Linked DNA regions of Homo sapiens: regions 1 and 3 are each linked to region 2. The links come from fine-mapping of genetic effects on gene expression. A gene starts in region 2. Each other region holds a variant in brackets. All regions are shown on one strand. Distances are from middle to middle. Region 1 holds the start of CRK-AS1 (CRK antisense RNA 1). Region 2 holds the start of CRK (CRK proto-oncogene, adaptor protein). Region 3 overlaps CRK (CRK proto-oncogene, adaptor protein).

What was found. PIP is the estimated chance that this variant, and not a neighbour inherited with it, causes the effect.
Region 1: its variant is fine-mapped to the expression of CRK in whole blood (TOPMed, PIP above 0.99).
Region 3: its variant is fine-mapped to the expression of CRK in whole blood (INTERVAL, PIP 0.97).

Annotation. Positions count from the first base shown.
Region 1 is chr17:1,422,917-1,429,712 of GRCh38, reverse strand. CRK (CRK proto-oncogene, adaptor protein) reads left to right here. Exons shown (of 3, transcript NM_016823.4): 3 at 6,063-6,796. The coding sequence ends at 6,200. CRK-AS1 (CRK antisense RNA 1) reads right to left here and starts at 5,127. Exons shown (of 1, transcript NR_198965.1): 1 at 5,048-5,127. The variant C/A (reference allele first, on the strand shown) is at 4,626.
Region 2 is chr17:1,453,563-1,458,562 of GRCh38, reverse strand. CRK (CRK proto-oncogene, adaptor protein) reads left to right here and starts at 2,331. Exons shown (of 3, transcript NM_016823.4): 1 at 2,331-2,686. The coding sequence starts at 2,446. RefSeq lists silencers at 2,023-2,522, 2,613-2,672, 2,783-2,912 and enhancers at 2,177-3,162, 4,297-4,798.
Region 3 is chr17:1,431,594-1,438,632 of GRCh38, reverse strand. It overlaps CRK (CRK proto-oncogene, adaptor protein), which reads left to right. Exons shown (of 3, transcript NM_016823.4): 2 at 1,478-2,013. Among named protein-coding and RNA genes, the nearest start is that of CRK-AS1, 11 kb to the right of the region's middle. RefSeq lists enhancers at 5,582-6,082, 6,083-6,583. The variant C/G (reference allele first, on the strand shown) is at 3,669.

The DNA of each region.
Region 1 (6,796 bases), 30 kb after region 2:
AGGCAATCTTCCTCCTGCTCGGGCCTCACAAAGCACTGGGATTATAGGTGTGAGCCACTGCGTCTGGCCTCTTTTTTTTTTTTTTAAGAGAGACAGAGTTTCACTGTGCTGCTGAGGAAGGCCTCAAACTCCTGGGCTCAGCTGGGCAAGGTGGCCCATGCCTATAATCCCAGCACTTTGGGAGGCCGAGTTGGGCAAATCACTTGAAGTCAGGAGTTGCATACCAGACTGTCCAATGTGGTGAAACCTGGTCTCCACTAAAAATACAAAAATTAACTGAGCATGGTGGCGGGCGCCTATAATCCCAGGTCCTTGGGAGCCTAAGGCACAAGACTCCAGGAGGCGGAGTTTGCAATGAGACAAGATTGTGCCACTGCACTCCAGCCTGGGTGAGAGATCAATACAGTGTCTCAAAAAGAAAAAAAAACCCTGGACTCAAGGGTTCCTCTCCCCTCAGTCTCCCAAGTAGCTGGGACTACAGGTGCAGGCCAGCGTACCCGGTGTAAAAAAAAAAGTTTTAGATTTTGGCATGGTTTTCCTCTGCAGGGTAGATCCAAGAGAATCTGGCTGGGCACGGTGGCTCACACCTGTAATCCCAGCACTTTGGGAGGCCAAGGTGGGCGGATCACCTGAGGTCAGGAGTTGGAGACCAGCCTGGCCAACATGGTGAAACCCCATCTCTACTAAAAATGCGAAAAAATTAGCCGGACGTGGTGGCGTGCGCCAGTAATCCCAGCTACTCAGGAGGCTGAGGCAGGAGAATCGCTTGAACCCAGGAGGCGGAGGTTGCAGTGAGCTGAGATTGCGCCACTGGACTCCAGCCTGGGTGACAAGAGTGAGGCTCCATCTAAAAAAAAAAGAGAGAGAATCTGTACATTAAAGATAGTTCTGAGCCGGGCGTGGTGGCTCACGCCTGTAATCCCAGCACTTTGGGAGGCTGAGGTGAGCAGATCACGAGGTCAGGAGTTCAAGACCAGCCTGGCCAATATGGTGAAACCCCATCTCTACTATAAATACAAAAATTAGCAGGGCGTGGTGGCACATGCCTGTAGTCCCAGCTACTCAGGAGGCTGAGGCAGGAGAATCACTTGAACCTGGGAGGCAGAGGTTGCAGTGAGCTGAGATCATGCCACTGTACTCTAGCCAGGGCAACAGAGTGAGACGCTGTCTCAAAAAAAAAAAAAAAAAAAAGATCTGATATGGTCCAAAGGTCTAATTTACACATAGTTCCTTTCCCCAATAACATCTTGCCTCATAGAAATCCCTACTCATTTATCCCTTAGAAGTCTGAAAGAAGGGCTGGCACGGTGGCTCACACCTGTAATCCCAGCACATTGGGAGGCCGAGGTAGGCAGATCATGAAGTCAGGAGATCGAGACCATCCTGCCCACCATGGTGAAACCCCATCTCTACTAAAAATACAAAAATCAGCTGGGCGTGGTGGCGGGCGCCTGTAGTCCCAGCTACTCTGGAGGCTGAGGCAGGAGAATCATTTGAATCCTGGAGGCGGAGGTTGCAGTGAGCCAGCATCGTACCACTGCACTCCAGCCTGGGTGACAAGAGCAAAAACTCCATTAAAAAAAAAAAAAAAAAAGTCTGAAAGAAAAGATCTGGAGGCACATTAGCAGGTTTTGCCCCACATTTTGAGAAATTGGTATGGTTCTGTGTTAACAGCAAGGGGTGGGGCTGGTCCACTTTTCAACCTACCCTTCACCTCTTAGAGCTTTGTGGGATGTGATTTGAGACTGCAGTATGAATGCTTAAGAATAAAGACAATATAGGCTGGGCGCGGTGGCTGATGCCTGTAATTCCAGCACTTTGGGAAGCCGAGGTGGGCGGGTCATGAGGTCAGGAGTTCGAGACAAGCCTGCCCAGCATGGTGAGACCCCGTCTCTACTAAAAATACGAAAAAAGTACTGGCTGGGCATGGTGGCTTGTGCTTGTCGTCCCAGCTACTTGAGAGCCTGAGGCAGGAGAATTGTTTGAACCTGGCAGGTGGAGGTTGCAGTGAGCCAAGATAGCGTCACTGCACTCCAGCCTGGGTGACAGAGTGAGACTCTCTCTCAAACAAACAAAAAGAATAAAGACAATATAACATTGAGGTATTTATTTATTTATTTGAGACTGAGTCTCGCTCTGTTACCCAGGCTGGAGTGCAGTGGCGTGATCTCGGCTCACTGCAAGCTCCGCCTCCTGGGTTCACACCATTCTCCTGCCTCAGCCTCCCGAGTAGGTGGGACTACAGGCGCCCGCCAGCACGCCTGGCTAATTTTTTGTATTTTTAGTAGAGACGGGGTTTCACCGTGTTAGCCAGGATGGTCTGGATCTCCTGACCTCATGATCTGCCGCCCTCAGCCTCCCAAAGTGCTGGGATTACAGGCGTGAGCCACCGCGCCCGGCCAAGATTCTTTTTTTTTTTTTTTTGGAGACAGAATCTTGGTCTCTCCACCAGGGTGGGGTGCAGTGGTGCACTTGGCTTGCTACAGCTCAAACTCCCAGGCTCAAGTGATCCTCCTGCCTCAGCCTCCTGAGTAACTGGAACTACAGGTGCATACGATGATACCTTACTAATTTTTTTTTTTTTTTCAAGAGACACAGTCTTGCTATTGTTGCCTAGCCTGGCTGGGGCATGTCAGAATCTTTTTTTTTTTTTTTTTTTTTTTTTTTTTTTTTTTTTTTTTTGGAGACAGTTTTGCTCTGTCGCCCAGGCTGGAGTGCACTGGTACTATCTTGGCTCACTGCAATCTCTGCCTCCCGGGCTCAAGTGATCCTCCCATGTCAGCCTCTTGAGTAGCTGGGACCACAGGCGCACACTACTATGCCTGGCTAATTTATTTATTTATTTTATTTTTTGAGACAGTGTAACTCTGTTGGCCAGGCTGGAGTGCAGTGGCACAGTCTCGGCTCACTGCAACCTCCTCTTCCCAGGTTCAAGCAGTTCACTGCCTCAGCCTCGCAAGTAGCTGGGATTACAGGCGCCTGCCACCACACCTGGCTAATTTTTGTATTTTAGTAGAGACGGGGTTTCACCAATTTGGCCAGGCTGGTCTTGAACTCCTGACGTCGTGATTCACTCACCTCGACCTCCCAAAGTGCTGAGATTATAGGCGTGCGCCACCACGCCCAGCCAATTTTTTTATTTTTTGTAGAAATGAGGTTTCACTATGGTGCCCAGGCTGGTCTTGAACTCCTGAGCTCAAGTGATCCTCCTACCTCGCCTCCCAAAGTGCTGGGATTAAAGACGTGAGCCCCACAGCACCCTGCCCAGATGTGAGAAACGTTGAATTCTAAAATTGCTGGCAGGCCAGGTGTGGTGAGAGTCCTGGTGACAGCAACCTGTGAGGATTGTTACCTGTGTGTAAGGATAGGCATGCCATCATCCCTTCCTCCCCTTCCTCCACACTTGTGCTCAGCTGGCATCGTCACGACACAGGCTGGGCCATCATCCCTTCCTCTCCTTCCTCCACACGTGTGCTCAGCCGGCATTGTCACGACACAGGCTGGGTTAGCTGCTTGGTTTTCTCTTTTTTTGCAGACAGGGTCTTGTTGCCCAGGCTAGGGGGCAGCCTTGACCTCCCAGGAGGCTCAGGTGACCTCCTACCTCAGCCTCCCAAGTAACTGGGACCACAGGCGCACACCAGCACGCTTGGCCACGCTTGGCCACACTTGGCTTTTTAAATTTTTTTGTAGAGACAAGATCTCACTCTTTTGCCAGGGCTGCTCTCAAAATCATGGGCTCAAGCCATCCCCCCACCTCAGTTTCCCAAAGTGCTGGGATTACAGGCATGAGCCACTGCACCAAGCCTGCTGCTATTTTTTTCTCAACCTCTGTGTCTTATGTGTCTCTCTATCCCCTTCTTTCTGTCCCTCCTTTTCTCAGCATCCTATGACCCATACAGTGACTTCAGGCCTCTGTAATTTTTAGAGAGTTCTTCAGGAAACAACAGAGGGGCCAATAGGCAAGCTGTTCCATCTGTAAGTGAGGTCAGGCTGGGCCTGGAAGAGGCCCTGCGGCTGGACTTACGTTGGCTTTGGCCAGTAGATGTGCCTGCGTACATTTTTAGGGAACCCAGTACAAGCCCAGATGCATAATTTGAAAGTTCCTGATACTGTATGAAATGCATAAATGGTGTGGAGGCTCATGCCTGTAATTAGCTGGGCATGGTGGCGTGCACCTGTAGTCTCAGCTACTCGGGAGGCTAAGGTTGGAGGATCCCATGAGCCCAAGAGTTACAGGCTGCAGTGAGCCATGATGGTGTCAGTGCTCTCCAGCCTGAGTGACAGAGTGAGACCCTGTCTCAAAAACAAAAGATAAAAAGATGGCCAGGCGTGGTGGCTCACACCTGTAATCATAGCACTTTGGGAGGCCGAGGCGGGCGGATCACGAGGTCAGGAGATCGAGACCATCTTGGCTAACATGGTGAAACCCCATCTCTACTAAACAAAATACAAAAAATTAGCTGGGCGTGGTGGCGGGCGGCTGTAGTCCCAGCTACTAGGGAGGCTGAGGCAGGAGAATGGCGTGAACCCGGGAGGCAGAGCTTGCAGTGAGCTGAGATAGCGCCACTGCACTCCAGCCTGGGCAACAGATCGAGACTCTGTCTTAAAAAAACAAACAAAAAAAA[C/A]CTTTATATTTCATTTTGCAACAAGAGACATTTTATAAATAAATGCCAAAACATAAGGTTTTTTTTTGTTTTTAGAGGCAGGATCTGGCTCTGTTGCCCAGGCTGGAGTGCAGTGATGTGATCTCGGCTCACTGCAACCTCTGCCTCCTGGGCTCAAGCAGTCCACCCACCTCAGCCTCCCGAGTAGCTGGTTCTATGAGCAGCCACCACCACACCCAGCTAATTTTTGTATTTTTTGTAGAGACGGTTTCACCATGTTGCTCAGGCTGGTCTCAAAAACTCCTGAGCTGAAGCAATCCATCCACCTGTGTCAGGCTCACCAAGTGCTGGGATTGCAGGCGTCAGCCACTGCGCCCGGCCATGGTTGGTTTTTTTGACCCCTCATTGGGTAATGATCAGGTAACAAGCGGCTTTGAGGGAGCAGCAAGGTCTGTCCGATGGTGGGATTTGGGGGCTGGGCAGGCAGTGGCTTGTGAAGTAGAGCTTACTGAATGAGGTGGGGGTTTTCTGGGAGCTAATTGGACCTGGAGTTTTGGCCTCTACCTGCCCATATGGGAAAAGGCTTGCCTGGGTCAGGAGGTGATAGGAACACTTGATTCTCTAGGACCAAGTGACCTATGCTTGCCATGATCGCTTTCTGCTGTGCAAGCAGTAACAGGCCAGGTCTTGTGCGAGTGGGCTGGGGGATTGTGCTGCTGCCATATGCTAAAGCGGGGAGAAGGCGGCCAGGCACAGTGGCTCACGCCTGTAATCCAAGCACTTTGGGAGGCCAAGGCAGGTGGATCACAAGGTCAGGAGTTCGAGACCAGCCTGGCCAAGATGGTGAAACTCCATCTCTACTAAAAATACAAAAATTAGCTGGGCACGGTGGCAGGCGCCTGTAGTCCCAGCTACTCGGGAGGCTGTGGCAGGAAAATTGCTCGAACCTGGGAGGCAGAGCTTGCAGTGAGCTGAGATCACGCCACTGTCATCCAGCCTGGGTGACAGAGACTCCGTCTCAAAAAAAAAAAAAAAAAAAAACGGAGAAAGCTGCTTCTCCTCGGACAGGGCCTGCGGAGCAGGCAGAAAGCTGAGGGTAGTGAGTACAAAGAAAGGGAATAGTAGCTAACTCACTGAAGTTGGGATTGCTCATGCAGAGACAGCTGAGATTTCCAATAATTATCACTTTCCTTTTTTAATCAAAAAGTATCATTATCTGGAATCCCTTTTACTTTCTGTATTCTCTGTTTTTCCACACTGCTAAAAACACTTTTCCTTCTGCCTGCATTAACCACAAGTAATCAGTCTGGTGGCTGGGGCTGGGGAGGCAGCAAATGGCCATTTCTGTAATATCCCTAGAGCAGTCACATGGGCAGGGTGTGCCTAACCAGAGAATGGAGTTGTTCAGCTTGCATTCCTACCTGGAAATAAAGTGCTCTCCTTATTCTCCTCCTGCAGGTCGGTGAGCTGGTAAAGGTTACGAAGATTAATGTGAGTGGTCAGTGGGAAGGGGAGTGTAATGGCAAACGAGGTCACTTCCCATTCACACATGTCCGTCTGCTGGATCAACAGAATCCCGATGAGGACTTCAGCTGAGTATAGTTCAACAGTTTTGCTGACAGATGGGAACAATCTTTTTTTTTTTTTTCCAACTGCCATCTATACAATTTTCTTACAGATGTCAAAAGCAGTCTAGTTTATATAAGCATTCTGTTACCTGTGATATTTTTTAGACTGAACTGCTCCATTCCTAGTCTTAATTACCATATTCAGGGTACGAACTGGAGGGCTTGTGTGTTAGCTTCTGAATTGGCAATTGGAGGCGGTAGTGGTCGTGCCTGTGTGTATCAGAAGGGATAGGTATCTTGCCTCCTTTCTCTCAGGCAGTGCAAATCACCCTGTGGAAAACCGATGGACAGGAAGGAGTGTTACACACTGCTTACCCTGATTTATTCAGTGGTTTTGTTTTCATTCTGGAACCATACTATCAAATGGCGACAGACTGTTCCGTTCCACCCCCGTGAAGTAATCATGCACCGTGTGAATAGTATCAAGCAGGATTGCTTTCATTGTATGGAGCATGACCAGCGTGTGACTCATTCTGACATTTCAGATCCTAAGAATTCTAAGAACACTACTAGAAGCATTTGTTCCCTCCTAGTCAATGCTTCATACTTTTTCTTGGGATTCTT
Region 2 (5,000 bases):
TGTTGGCCAGGCTGGTCTCGAACTCCTGACCTCCTGGCCTCCCAAAGTGCTGGGATTACAAGCATGAGCCACTATGCCTGGCCAGAAAAAATTTTTAATTAAAAAAAAATGAGCCTGGCCAATATGGTGAAACCCCGTCTCTACTGAAAATACAAACATTAGCCGGGCGTGGTGGCGGGTGCCTGTAGTCCCAGCTACTCGGGAGGCTGAGGCAGGGATAATCGCTTGAATCCGGGAGGCGGAGATTGCAGTGAGCCGAGATCACGCCACTGCACTCCAGCCTGGGCAACAGAGCAGGAATCCATCTAAAAAAAAAAAAAAGAGAGAGAGAGACTGTGGCCCAATTTTATGCTCTGAGCTAAACTGGGAGTTTGAACACCTGAAGACTGTTAAAAGTTTTACACAAGGTAGCAACACATTCAGATTTGTATACATATATATATATTTTTGAGACAGGATCTCCCTCTGTCACCCAGGCTGGAGTGCAGTGGCATGATTTCGGCTCACTGCAACCTCCGCCTCCTGGGTTCAAGCGATTCTCCTGCCTCATCCTCCTGAGTAGCTGGGATTACAGGCGCCCGCTAACACACCTGGCTAATTTTTGTATTTTTAGTAGAGACCGGGCTTCACCATATTGGTCAGCCCGGTCTCGAACTTCTGACCTCAGGTGATCTGCCAGCCACAGCCTCCCAAAGTGTTGGGATTACAGGCATGAGCCACGGCGCCCGGCCAGATCTGTATTTTAGAAAACTCAGTGGGAGTTGTTTGCAGTGCGATTAGGGGCAGCCAGACGAAAGAGCACCAGCGAGCACGACACTCGTAGGAACACAGTCCAGAGGCAATCATGAGGGCAGTGAGAGTAGGAGATGCCCCTGGCTACAATTTAGTGTTTAGAATTATCTGGGCAGGTGACCCCAAAGCCTCAAAAGAGAAGAGAACTCTGTACTTCACGTGGCTTGGTACACTCTGCTCCCTTTGCTTTGAATGTCCTTCCCCGCCGAGTGCGGTGGCTCACGCCTGTAATCCCAGCACTTTGGGAGGCCGAGGTGGGCGGATCTCAAGGTCAGGAGATCGAGACCAGCCTGGCTAACACGGTGAAACCCCATCTCTACTAAAAATACAAAAAGTTAGCCGGGCGTGGTGGCGGGTGCCTGCAGTCCCAGCAACTCGGGAGGCTGAGGCAGGAGAATGGCGTGAACCCGGGAGGCGGAGCTTGCAGTGAGCCGAGATCACGCCCAGGCACTCCAGCCTGGGCGACAGAGCGAGACTCCATCTCAAAAAAAAAAAAAAAAAAAAAAGAAAGAATGTCCTTCCCCATTTGTCATTCAGCAGTCAACACATGCTGCCTCCTCTGGGAAGCCCTCCTGGATTACTCCATAGACTGGCTGTGGGGGCTCTGCTCTGTGTTCATGTCCGTTTCCCATGATAGCGTTTGTCAGCATTTGTCATCCTTTTGTCATCCAGTTTCCTGGTTCCTCTCACTGGTCTGTGAGTTCGAGGAGTGCAGGGCCCAGCCATGATAACCTTTGCACCCGCAGTGCAAGTGGAGTGTCAACAACAATGTCCTAGGTGAATCAATGAAAATGAGAACGTCAGCTGGTCTGTGGAGAAGCTAGAGGAACGAGCAGAAACGGACCGACGTGGCCGGGCGCGATGTTTCTCGCCTGTAATCCCAGCACTTTGGGAGGCCGAGGCGGGCGGATCACCTGAGGTCAGGAGATTGAGACCATCCTGGCCGACATGGTGAAACCCCCGTCTCTACTAAAAATACAAAAAACAGCCGGGCGCGGTGGCTCACGCCTGTAGTCTCAGCTACTCGGGAGGCTGACGCAGGAGAATCGCTTGAACCCGGGAGCAGTGAGCCGAGATCGCGCCATTGCACTCCAGCGTGGGCGACAGAACAAGACTCCGTCTCAAAAAGAAAAAGAAAAAAGAAACAGACTGATATCGCAGGAAGCCTGGCCGAGAACTCAGGCCCCAGGGCCACACGCATCTTTTCTCCTCCAATTCTGTCTGGGAGTCGCTGCCTAGAAGTCCCAGGTCGTCCAGGAACCGGGGCCCAGACGAGAAGCACCGCTCTGTCCGCAGCGCAGGCGCGCGTCTCTGCGGGAGGCTGCGAGGCCCCGCCCCTCGGGCCCTAGACCCCGCCTCCCATCCCCCGCAGCCCGGGCCCGGGAAGGGCGGCACCGCCCATGAATCCGCATGCGCAGTGCGCGCGCGAGGGCGCCTTGCCCTTCTCCCAATGGCGGGCCGCGGGCCCCTTCCCGGCAGCCTCCCTCGGGCAGGGAGCGCGTCATTTCCGGAGGGGGAGGCCCGCGGCTGCCGCCGCCATTTCGGGCGCTGCTGTGAAGCTGAAACCGGAGCCGGTCCGCTGGGCGGCGGGCGCCGGGGGCCGGAGGGGCGCGCGCGGCGGCGGCACCCCAGCGTTTAGGCGCGGAGGCAGCCATGGCGGGCAACTTCGACTCGGAGGAGCGGAGTAGCTGGTACTGGGGGAGGTTGAGTCGGCAGGAGGCGGTGGCGCTGCTGCAGGGCCAGCGGCACGGGGTGTTCCTGGTGCGGGACTCGAGCACCAGCCCCGGGGACTATGTGCTCAGCGTCTCAGAGAACTCGCGCGTCTCCCACTACATCATCAACAGCAGCGGCCCGCGCCCGCCGGTGCCACCGTCGCCCGCCCAGCCTCCGCCCGGTGAGGGACTGACGGGACGGCGGGCCCTGGGCGGGGTGAGGGCCGCGGAACTCCCAGCCTGGCTGGCTGGTCCTCGAGAGCGGACCCTCGGGGGTCGTGGGCAGAGGGCTGGGTGACCGTGGCAGGGGCCCGCCGGCTGCTCGGGCTCGCTCTCACCCGGGGAGCAGGAGTGTGGGGGAGGAGGAGCCGCGGACCGAGGCCCCGGGGTGTGCCTGGGGAGGGCAGCCGCGGGGAAGGGGAACTGCTTCGGCCCCAGGGTGGGGCTGGCTCCCGGGCCAGGCGCAAGGGTAGGGCAGGGCAAGGCAACGTGGGGACAAAGAGCTGAGGGAGATGTTGGCACTGCGGGGGCATCACTTGGCAGCGGCGCCCAGAATGAATCCGATAATCCTACAAGTGGCTTTTAGGCTGGAAACGTTTCCTGCCGTGTTGGAGAGCCGGGTTTGGCCGTGCTCCCCTGGTGGCCTTTGGTAGGAAGTCACCACATACTGGCCGGGAGGGATGGAGACACCCTCAGGAAACCGGTCAATTTTTTCCTTTCTTGGGCATTTTTCCAAAATCTTTGTACCGTTCTCTTCCCCCGTGGAGGACGAAGGTGGTGAACTAAGTGCTAGAAGAAATAGTGGTAGCAGAAAGCCTTCAGTGACCAGCCCAACCCAGTTTAAGGCGATGCCTGGCTATGTGCAAGAGATCTAAGCGTCCAGAAGACTGTCCGCCGTTAGAGAGTTCTGGTTTTCAAAGTGTTTAGTGGAGGAAAGACATTTTATTCCACAAAATAAACCAGAAGTGAGGCAATGGAAACAGACCCTTCCCTGTAAGTGACTGGAACTTCATTTTCCTTGGACTTAAACATTGTCGGTGTGTACTTCAGGGCGTCACCTTGCTCAGTAAGATGGGGCTGCGGGCTGAGTCTTCCTGGATATTGGGAACAGACTCTACGCCAAGAACATAAATTACCTGCGCTGGGTTTTCCTTGCCAGGGAGGGATCCCTGAGATTGACTGTCTTACCGATGCCGTTGGAGTTGATTTGGGACTGTTTTAAGGGAATAGATAGATGCCCTTAGTACTGGAGATTTGTGAGGTACAAAGTAATTCTGGGGTTCTCATTGTATGTGTACCTGTGTAACAGCATCAGGAGTCCTCGTGCCTTCACGCTGTTGCCAAGTCGAAGCAGTTTCTTCTTGGCCAGCTGAGAATGGGTTCAGACTAGTCTCATATGAATCAGGAAGCTCTTGAGCCGTCCTTTGTAGACTTGCCCTTGTAGAATAGTTCTAATTTAGATTTACTCGCTCCGGCCAGAAATAGAGAATTGGATAGGCAGTCTCTTTGTTAACACACACCAATTTTTATTTTACTCTTTTCTAAGACGGAGTCTTGCTCTGTCACCCACGCTGGAGCACAGTGGCGCAATCTCGGCTCACGGCGATTCTCCTGTCTCAGTCTCCCAAGTAGCTGGGATTACAGGCACCCGCCACCATAACCAGCTAATGTTGTATTTTTCGTAGAGACGAAGTTTCACCAGGTTGGCCAGGCTGGTCTCGAACTCCTGACCTCAGGTGATCCACCAGCCTCGGCCTCCCAAAGTGCTGGGATTACAGGCAAGAGCCACCGCGCCTGGCCAACACATACTAATTTTTTTAAAATTTTTCTTATTTATTTCTTACTTATTTATTTATTTTGAGACGGAGTCTCTCTGTCGCCCAGGCTGGAGTGCAGTGGCGCGATCTTGGCTCACTGCAACCTTTGCCTTTTGGGTTCAAGTGATTCTGCCTCAGCCTCCTGAGTAGCTGGGATTGCTGGTGTGCATCACCACCACGCCCAGCTAATTTTTTGTATTTTTAGTAGAGATGGGGTTTTACCAGGTTGGCCAGATTGGTCTTGAACTCCTGATCTCAGGTGATCCACTCGCCTTTGCCTCCCAAAATGCTGGGATTACAGGCGTGGGCCACCGCACCCAGCTTTGTTTGTTTGAGGCGGAGTTTCGCTTTTGTTGCCCAGGCTGGAGTGCGATGGTGCAATCTCAGCTCACTGCAATCTCTACCTCCCCGGGTTCAAAGGATTCTCCTGTCTCAGCCTCCCTAGTAGCTGGGATTACAGGCACACTCCACTACGCCTGGCTAGTTTTTGTATTTTTAGTAGGGTTGGGGTTTCGCCAAGTTGACCAGGCTGGTCTCGAACTCCTGACCTCAGGTGATCTGCCCACCTCAGACTCCCAAAGTGTTGGGATTACAGGCGTGAGCCACCACACCCAGTCTAACACAACCATTTTTTAAAAATGAGTATGGGGTCTATAAGCTCACAAATTATCCTAGATCT
Region 3 (7,039 bases), 21 kb after region 2:
CTTTATTTCCCCAAGCATTTTTTTTTTAATGACCTGTTTGCTTCATAGCGAACAGTCTAGTTTCTGTTTTATTTACGATCTCGGGAATTGATTTTTAAGCAGTTAGCCCCTTAGTTTTTCAGTTCAGCTTCTTGGTTCTTTTACCTTTTAGCTGTCAAAGATAAAATTGAGATCACCTATCTTAGATTTAAAAAGATACCAGAGGCCAGGCACTGTGGCTCATCCCTGTAATCCCAACACTTTGGAAGGTTGAGGCCGAAGGATTGCTTGAGCCCAGGTGTTTGAGACTAGCCTGGGCAACATAGTGAAACCCCATCTCTACAAAATATTTAAAAATTACCCAGATATGGTTGAGCGTGCCTGTAGTCCCAGCTGCTCAGGAGGCTGAAGTGGGAGGATTACTTGAGCCTGGGAGGTCAAGGCTGCAGTAAGCTGTGATTGTGCCACTGCACTCCAGCTTGAGCGACACAGCGAGACTCTGTCCCAAAAACAACGAAAACCACAACAAGAGATAGTTTTTCTTCTTCGGAATTATACATTCTAGATGTGAAGAGAAAAAATGTGTGAGCTCAGTGCAGACACAAGCTCTCTCCACCTTCTGAACAGCAGCAGGGACCCATGAAAAACAAGAGCTTGCTACATTTCCTGAGGTTGAAAAGTAGATGCAGGCCAGGCGCAGTAGCTCACACCTGTAATCCCAGCACTTTGGGAGGCTGAGGTGGGTGGATCACCTGAGATCAGGAGTTTGAGACCAGCCTGGCCAACATGGTGAAACCCCGTCTCTACTAAAAATACAAAAAAAAAAAAAAAAATTAGCTTGTCATGGTGGTGGGAGCCTGTAATCCTAGCTACTCAGGAGGCTGAGACGGGAGAATCGCTTGAACCCGGGAGGCAGAGGTTGCAGTGAGCAGAGATCACGCCACTACACTCCAGCCTGGGCGACACAGTGAGATTTGGTCTCAAAAAAAAAAAAACATGCAACAGAACCTTGAGGCTTACACTGCTCTGTAAATGGGGTAGCGACAGAACATATTTGGAGAATGCAGTGAAAGCCCCCGTCGTTGATCAAGTATGAGAGCACGTCCTGATCAGCCTAGTCTCCTGGCCTCCTCATCCTTCCCTGGGGCTGTAGTGATGGGCATCTTTCTTCCCAGGGGATGTTTCAGCTTCCAAATGTGATGTTGGTGTGCTGTGAAGAGAAGGGGTTATTTTTTCTAGAGTTTTTTTTGCTGATTAAATCTTGACTAAATGTGTATGAGGCATGCATGAAAGCTCCATTTCGGCCAGGCACAGTGGTGGGCTCCTGTAGTCCCAGCTACTCAGGAGTTTGTGGTGAGAGGATCACTTGAGCCCCGGAGGTCAAGACCAGCCTGGGTAACATAGTGAGATCCCAACTCTAAAAAAAATAAAAATAAAATCTGCATTTCATTTCCAGTGTAGTACATCATTAAATAACAGCCTGCTCTGTTTTTTCCAGGGGTGAGCCCCTCCAGACTCCGAATAGGAGATCAAGAGTTTGATTCATTGCCTGCTTTACTGGAATTCTACAAAATACACTATTTGGACACTACAACGTTGATAGAACCAGTTTCCAGATCCAGGCAGGGTAGTGGAGTGATTCTCAGGCAGGAGGAGGCGGAGTATGTGCGAGCCCTCTTTGACTTTAATGGGAATGATGAGGAAGATCTTCCCTTTAAGAAAGGAGACATCTTGAGAATCCGGGACAAGCCTGAAGAGCAGTGGTGGAATGCGGAGGACAGCGAAGGCAAGAGAGGGATGATTCCAGTCCCTTACGTCGAGAAGTATAGACCTGCCTCCGCCTCAGTATCGGCTCTGATTGGAGGTAACCAGGAGGGTTCCCACCCACAGCCACTGGGTGGGCCGGAGCCTGGGCCCTATGCCCAACCCAGCGTCAACACTCCGCTCCCTAACCTCCAGAATGGGCCCATATATGCCAGGGTTATCCAGAAGCGAGTCCCCAATGCCTACGACAAGACAGCCTTGGCTTTGGAGGTACATAACGTGCACAATGTAGAAAGAAGAGATCTGCTGCAGGGTCTCCTCTCGGTCCTCTTAGAGCTTTGTAGCAATGCTGACTACAGCATTGGGATGTTGTAGATGGCAAGCCGCTAAGCACTGATGTTGGCATTGAATGTTGGGTTTTCTCTTCTTCATAGAAAACCTGTTTGGGAATGAGTAAGCTTAAAACTGTATAACTGAATGTTCTTAATTGATCTACTAAACACACTTGGACTACTTTAATAACACCACCTGAATTCACAGGAATTAACCTCAAATGTTTTTCCTCATCTACATCCTCATCTGTTTCTTGCTTTCTGTTTGTCGTTGTCTAAAAGAAGGTGGGTTCAGATGGATTTGAGTGTAATAAGTGGTCTCTATCAAAGCACTTAAATGGAATTTTCCCGCAAAAACTTGTTTTTGCTTCAGGGGACTTGAAGTTCCTTACCACTAATGTTCATTGAGTAGAATCCGGGAGGAAATAGGCCTAGTAGAGGTTTGAAGAGATGCACACCCAGAAGTCCTCATTCCGAGGAGTGGCAGGTGCACGGGTCTTTCTAAATCATTCAAAAAGCCAGTTCTTCCTCAGGAATTAATTTTTGCCTTTACTGATGAAATATCTTTGGCAGCCCACTTCCTTCTGGCCAGCCATTACATGGTGTTAATTCCTTTATTCCTCTCTTCCACGCTCACACCTTGCTCTCCTACCTCCTTCCTTTCTTCTTCCTTCCTCCCTCTCTCCCTTCCTTTCTTTTCAGAAGAATTGATGGTTCAGTGTAAAAGCTAGTACAGACTGGGCACAGTGGCTCACACTTGTAATCCTAGTGCTCTGGGAGGCTAAGGCAGGAAGACCACTTGAGACCAGGTGTTCAAGACCAGTCTGGGAAACATAGACCTCAGCTTTTTTTAACAAAAAGTGAAAAAAAAAAATCACCAGGCGTGGTGGCATGCACCTGCAGTCCTGGCTTGAATGAGAAATGGAATGTATGTTGTCAGAGTTATCACTGCCTCTTGTTCCCATTCCCTGTTTGGAGGAAAATAGATTTCTACCCTCAGGTCTTCCTGTGAGTTCAGATGACGGTAACATCTGGCATGGTGCTGTGTGTATGATGGATCTTACTCCTTTTTATTTTCTTTTTTTTTTTTCCTCTCTGCTTTTTTTTATTTTTATCTGGCCTTACTGAGTCACTAGATGTAACTCTTGACATTTATTACAGACTTTATTAGCACTGGGTTGAAGTAAGTATGAAAACATGGAACAAAGGCTGGGCGTGTGGCTCATACCTGTAATCCCAGCACCTTGGGAGGCCGAGGTGGGCAGATCACTTGAGCTCAGGAGTTGGAGACCGGCCTAGGCAACATGGCAAAACACCATCTCTACAAAAAATTAGCTGGGCATGGTGGCACGTGCCTGTGGTCCCAGCTACTTGGGAGGCTGAGGAGGGAGGATCACCTGAGCCTGAAAGGTCATGGCTGAAGTGAGCTGAGATCATGACACTGCACTCCAGCCTGGGCGACAGGGTGAGACTCTGTCTCAAAAAAAGAAAAAGAAAAAAAGCCATGGAACAAGCCAGCTGACCCAGGAGAAACCAGTTATCATGTGAATTTTGCTTCTATTTGCATTTCCTTTCTCAGAGATTTAATCATGC[C/G]TGCCTTAATTAGAGGCTTTACTGCTCAAAAAAATGGTTGAGCTTCTCTACCTGCTGTGAAACACAAATCTCATTAAATAAAGATTTGAGTAGAAAACTAGTTTTATGATTTTAGTAAGTTTTCCTTTTTGATTTGGGTATTGGGTTTTTTTGGATTTTTTTTTTTTTTTTTGGTTCTTTTTGAGACGAAATCTCACTCCATCGCCCAGGCTGGGGTGCAATGGCACGATCTCGGCTCACTGCAACCTCCGCCTCCCAGGTTCAAGTGATTCCCCTGCCTCAGTCTCCTGAGTAGTTGGGATTACAGGCATACCCCATTGTGCCTGGCTAATTTTTGTATTTTTAGTAGAGACAGGGTTTCACCTTGTTGGCCAGGCTGGTCTCAAACTCCTGACCTCAGGTGATCCACCCGCCTCAGCCTCCCAAAGTGCTGGGATTACAGGTGTGAGCTGTCGTGCCTGGCCAATTTCTAGAAATGTCTTTATGTTGAGCTAAAACATATGTACTATGTGTGGTCACCGCTCATCAAGGGTATGGGGAGCTTAGCTTCAGGCATTATCAGTTGAGCTAGAGATCTTTGTGACTCACACCAGAACCAGGGTAAGGCCTATCTCCCAGGATTCTGTGGGATGTTTTTTCTGTTCATGTGGACTGTTAAATCTCAAACACTGGCAGCTTTCCACCAATACTACCCATGCCAGTTTCAGTCCATCTCTGATGCAGGTGAATTGTTAAGGCTGAATTGTCCTCATTTGTTTCCATCAATTTGAAAGACTGTCGATGGGCCCTAGATACACTACCTGTTACTTAGATCAGGGGTCTGCAAACCTTTTCTGTAAAGGTTTTTGAGGGCCTTAAATTCTGTGTCCCAACTCTGCCATTGTAGCAAGAAGGAAATCATAGATAAAACAACAGATGAGCTTGCTGTGTTCCAATAAAGCTGCAAAAACAACAGGCTGATGTTTGGCCAGGTGCTGTGACTTACGCCTGTAATCCCAGCACTTTCGGAGGCTGAGGTGGGAGGATCGCTTGAGTCCAGGTGTTTGAAACCAGCCTGGGCAACATGGTGAGATCCGGTCTCTACAAAAAATGTTTTTAAAAATTAGCCAGGTGATCTAAAAAAAAAAAAAAAAAAAAAACCATACATGCTGGGTGCGGTGGCTCACGCCTGTAATCTCAGCACTTTGGAAGGCTGAGGCAGGCAGATCACCTGAGATCAGGAGTTTGAGACCAGCCTGACCGATATGATGAAACCCTGTCTGTACTAAAAATACAAAAATTAGCCAGGCGTGGTGGTGGGCGCCTGTAATTCCAGCTACTCGGGAGGCTAAGACAGGAGAATCACTTGAACCCGGGAGGCAGAGATTTCAGTGAGCTGAGATCGTGCCATAGCACTTCAGCCTGGGCAACAAGAGTGAAACTCCATCTCAAAAAAAAAAAAAAAAAAAAAAAAAAGCCAGGCGTGGTGGTGTGCACCTGTGGTCTCAGCTGCTTGGGAGGCTGAGGTAGGAAAACTGCTTGAGCCTAGGAGGTTGGAAGAGAAGGCTCCTGTGCTGCCTCTCTGTACTTGCTCTTCCCTGGTTTTGTGTGTATGAATTTGTGTGTGCTTCCTGCCCTGAGCTCACTGAAAGCAAGTCTGGATCAAGGCATGTTAGCAGTCAGTGATGTGCTGCTGGTTGGTAGTAGGGACCTAGAAAAGCAGTCACCTGGGTTTGCGCCAGCAAAGAAAACCAGTTCTGTGATGTCCCCTGTGTAGTGAATTCCAAACATTGATACCATTTGGGTTCTGATTTTGTTCTCATTATCTCTGGAACGCATTGATCAGCTGGGTAATCTTTTGTTCCTGTACCAATTCTAGATCTGATTGCACCAGGATCGATTAGCCTTGAAAACGACACAGAGCTAGGGAATAGCCAGTGTTTGTTACGTTCCTTGGGAGCAAAGAAACTGTAGTAACCACATTCAGTCTTCTTTATGAATGACTCCATGATACAGCCGGGACTTGCTTCCTAAAAAAGTGAAGATGAAAGGATGCTTGTTATATTTTAGTCAACTTTTCTAGGTGTTTTGTGGATTGTGGTTCTTTAGGATATAGTCTTAAGTCCACCATTCTACTTGATAGCAAACTCTGTTTAAATACCTCAATCTTATATTGTCTTTGTTCTTCTTTTCTTTTTTTTTTTTTTTTGAGACGGAGTCTCGCTTTGTTGCCCAGGCTGGAGTGCAGTGGCGTGATCTCGGCGCACTGCAAGCTCCGCCTCCTGGGCTCATGCCATTCTCCTGCCTCAGCCCCCCAAGTAGCTGGGACTACAGGCGCCCGCCACCACGCCTGGCTAATTTTTTATATTTTTAGTAGAGATGAGGTTTCACCGTGTTAGCCAGGATGGTCTCGACCTCCTGACCTCGTGATCCACCTGCCTTCGCCTCCCAAAGTGCTGGGATTACAGGCGTGAGCCACCGCGCCTGGCCTTTTTTTTTTTTTTTTTTTAAGACAAGGTCTCACTCTGTCACCCAGGCTGGAGTACAGTGGCGTGATCTCACTCTGCCTCCTGGGTTCAAGTGATTCTCGTGCCTCAACCTCCCGGGTAGCTGGGATTACAGGCATCCACCACCACGCCTGGCTAATTTTTTTATTTTTAGTAGAGATGGGATTTCGCCACATTGGCCAGGCTAGTCTCAAACTCCTGGCCTCAAGCGATCCGCCTGCCTCAGCCTCCCAAAGTGCTGGGATTATAGGCATGAGCCACCCCGCCTGGCCTATGTTGTCTTTATTCTTAAACATTCAGAGTGCAGTCTCAAATCCCATCCCACAGAGCTGTAAGAAGCTCCTAAGAATGTGTTACAGGATGAGGAGGCTGAGGACCAGCCTGGACAGTAAAACAGTTCCTCTGTGGTGAGACTCATCAGTCTCTTTGCTGTAGTGAGGTCTCCCTCTTGGAAAGAAAGGTTAACTACCTTGTAGTACTTCAAGTCCTGTATGAAGTCTTTGTTGTTCATTGGTAATTCATATTAGGATTTTTCTTTCCTATTTATAACTTGAATTTTGAAATCAGTAGTGTTAGAACTACTGTTATTACTACATTCACTGATTAGTACATTCCTTTGTATTGTCAGATTGTAACAGTTCTGGGGCAAGCACTCGGTTTCACCTTTGTATTTGAAGTAGTACACCCTAGTCTGGTCAACATGGTGAAACCCATCATTACAAGAATTAGCCAAGTGTGGTGCACATGCCTGTAGTCCCAGATACTCTAGTGACTGAGATGGGAGGATGGCTTCAGCCTGGGAGGTCAAGGCTGGAGTGAGCTATGATTGCGCTACTGCAGTCCAGGCTAGGCGACAGAGTGAGACTCTGCCTCAAAAAAAACTAG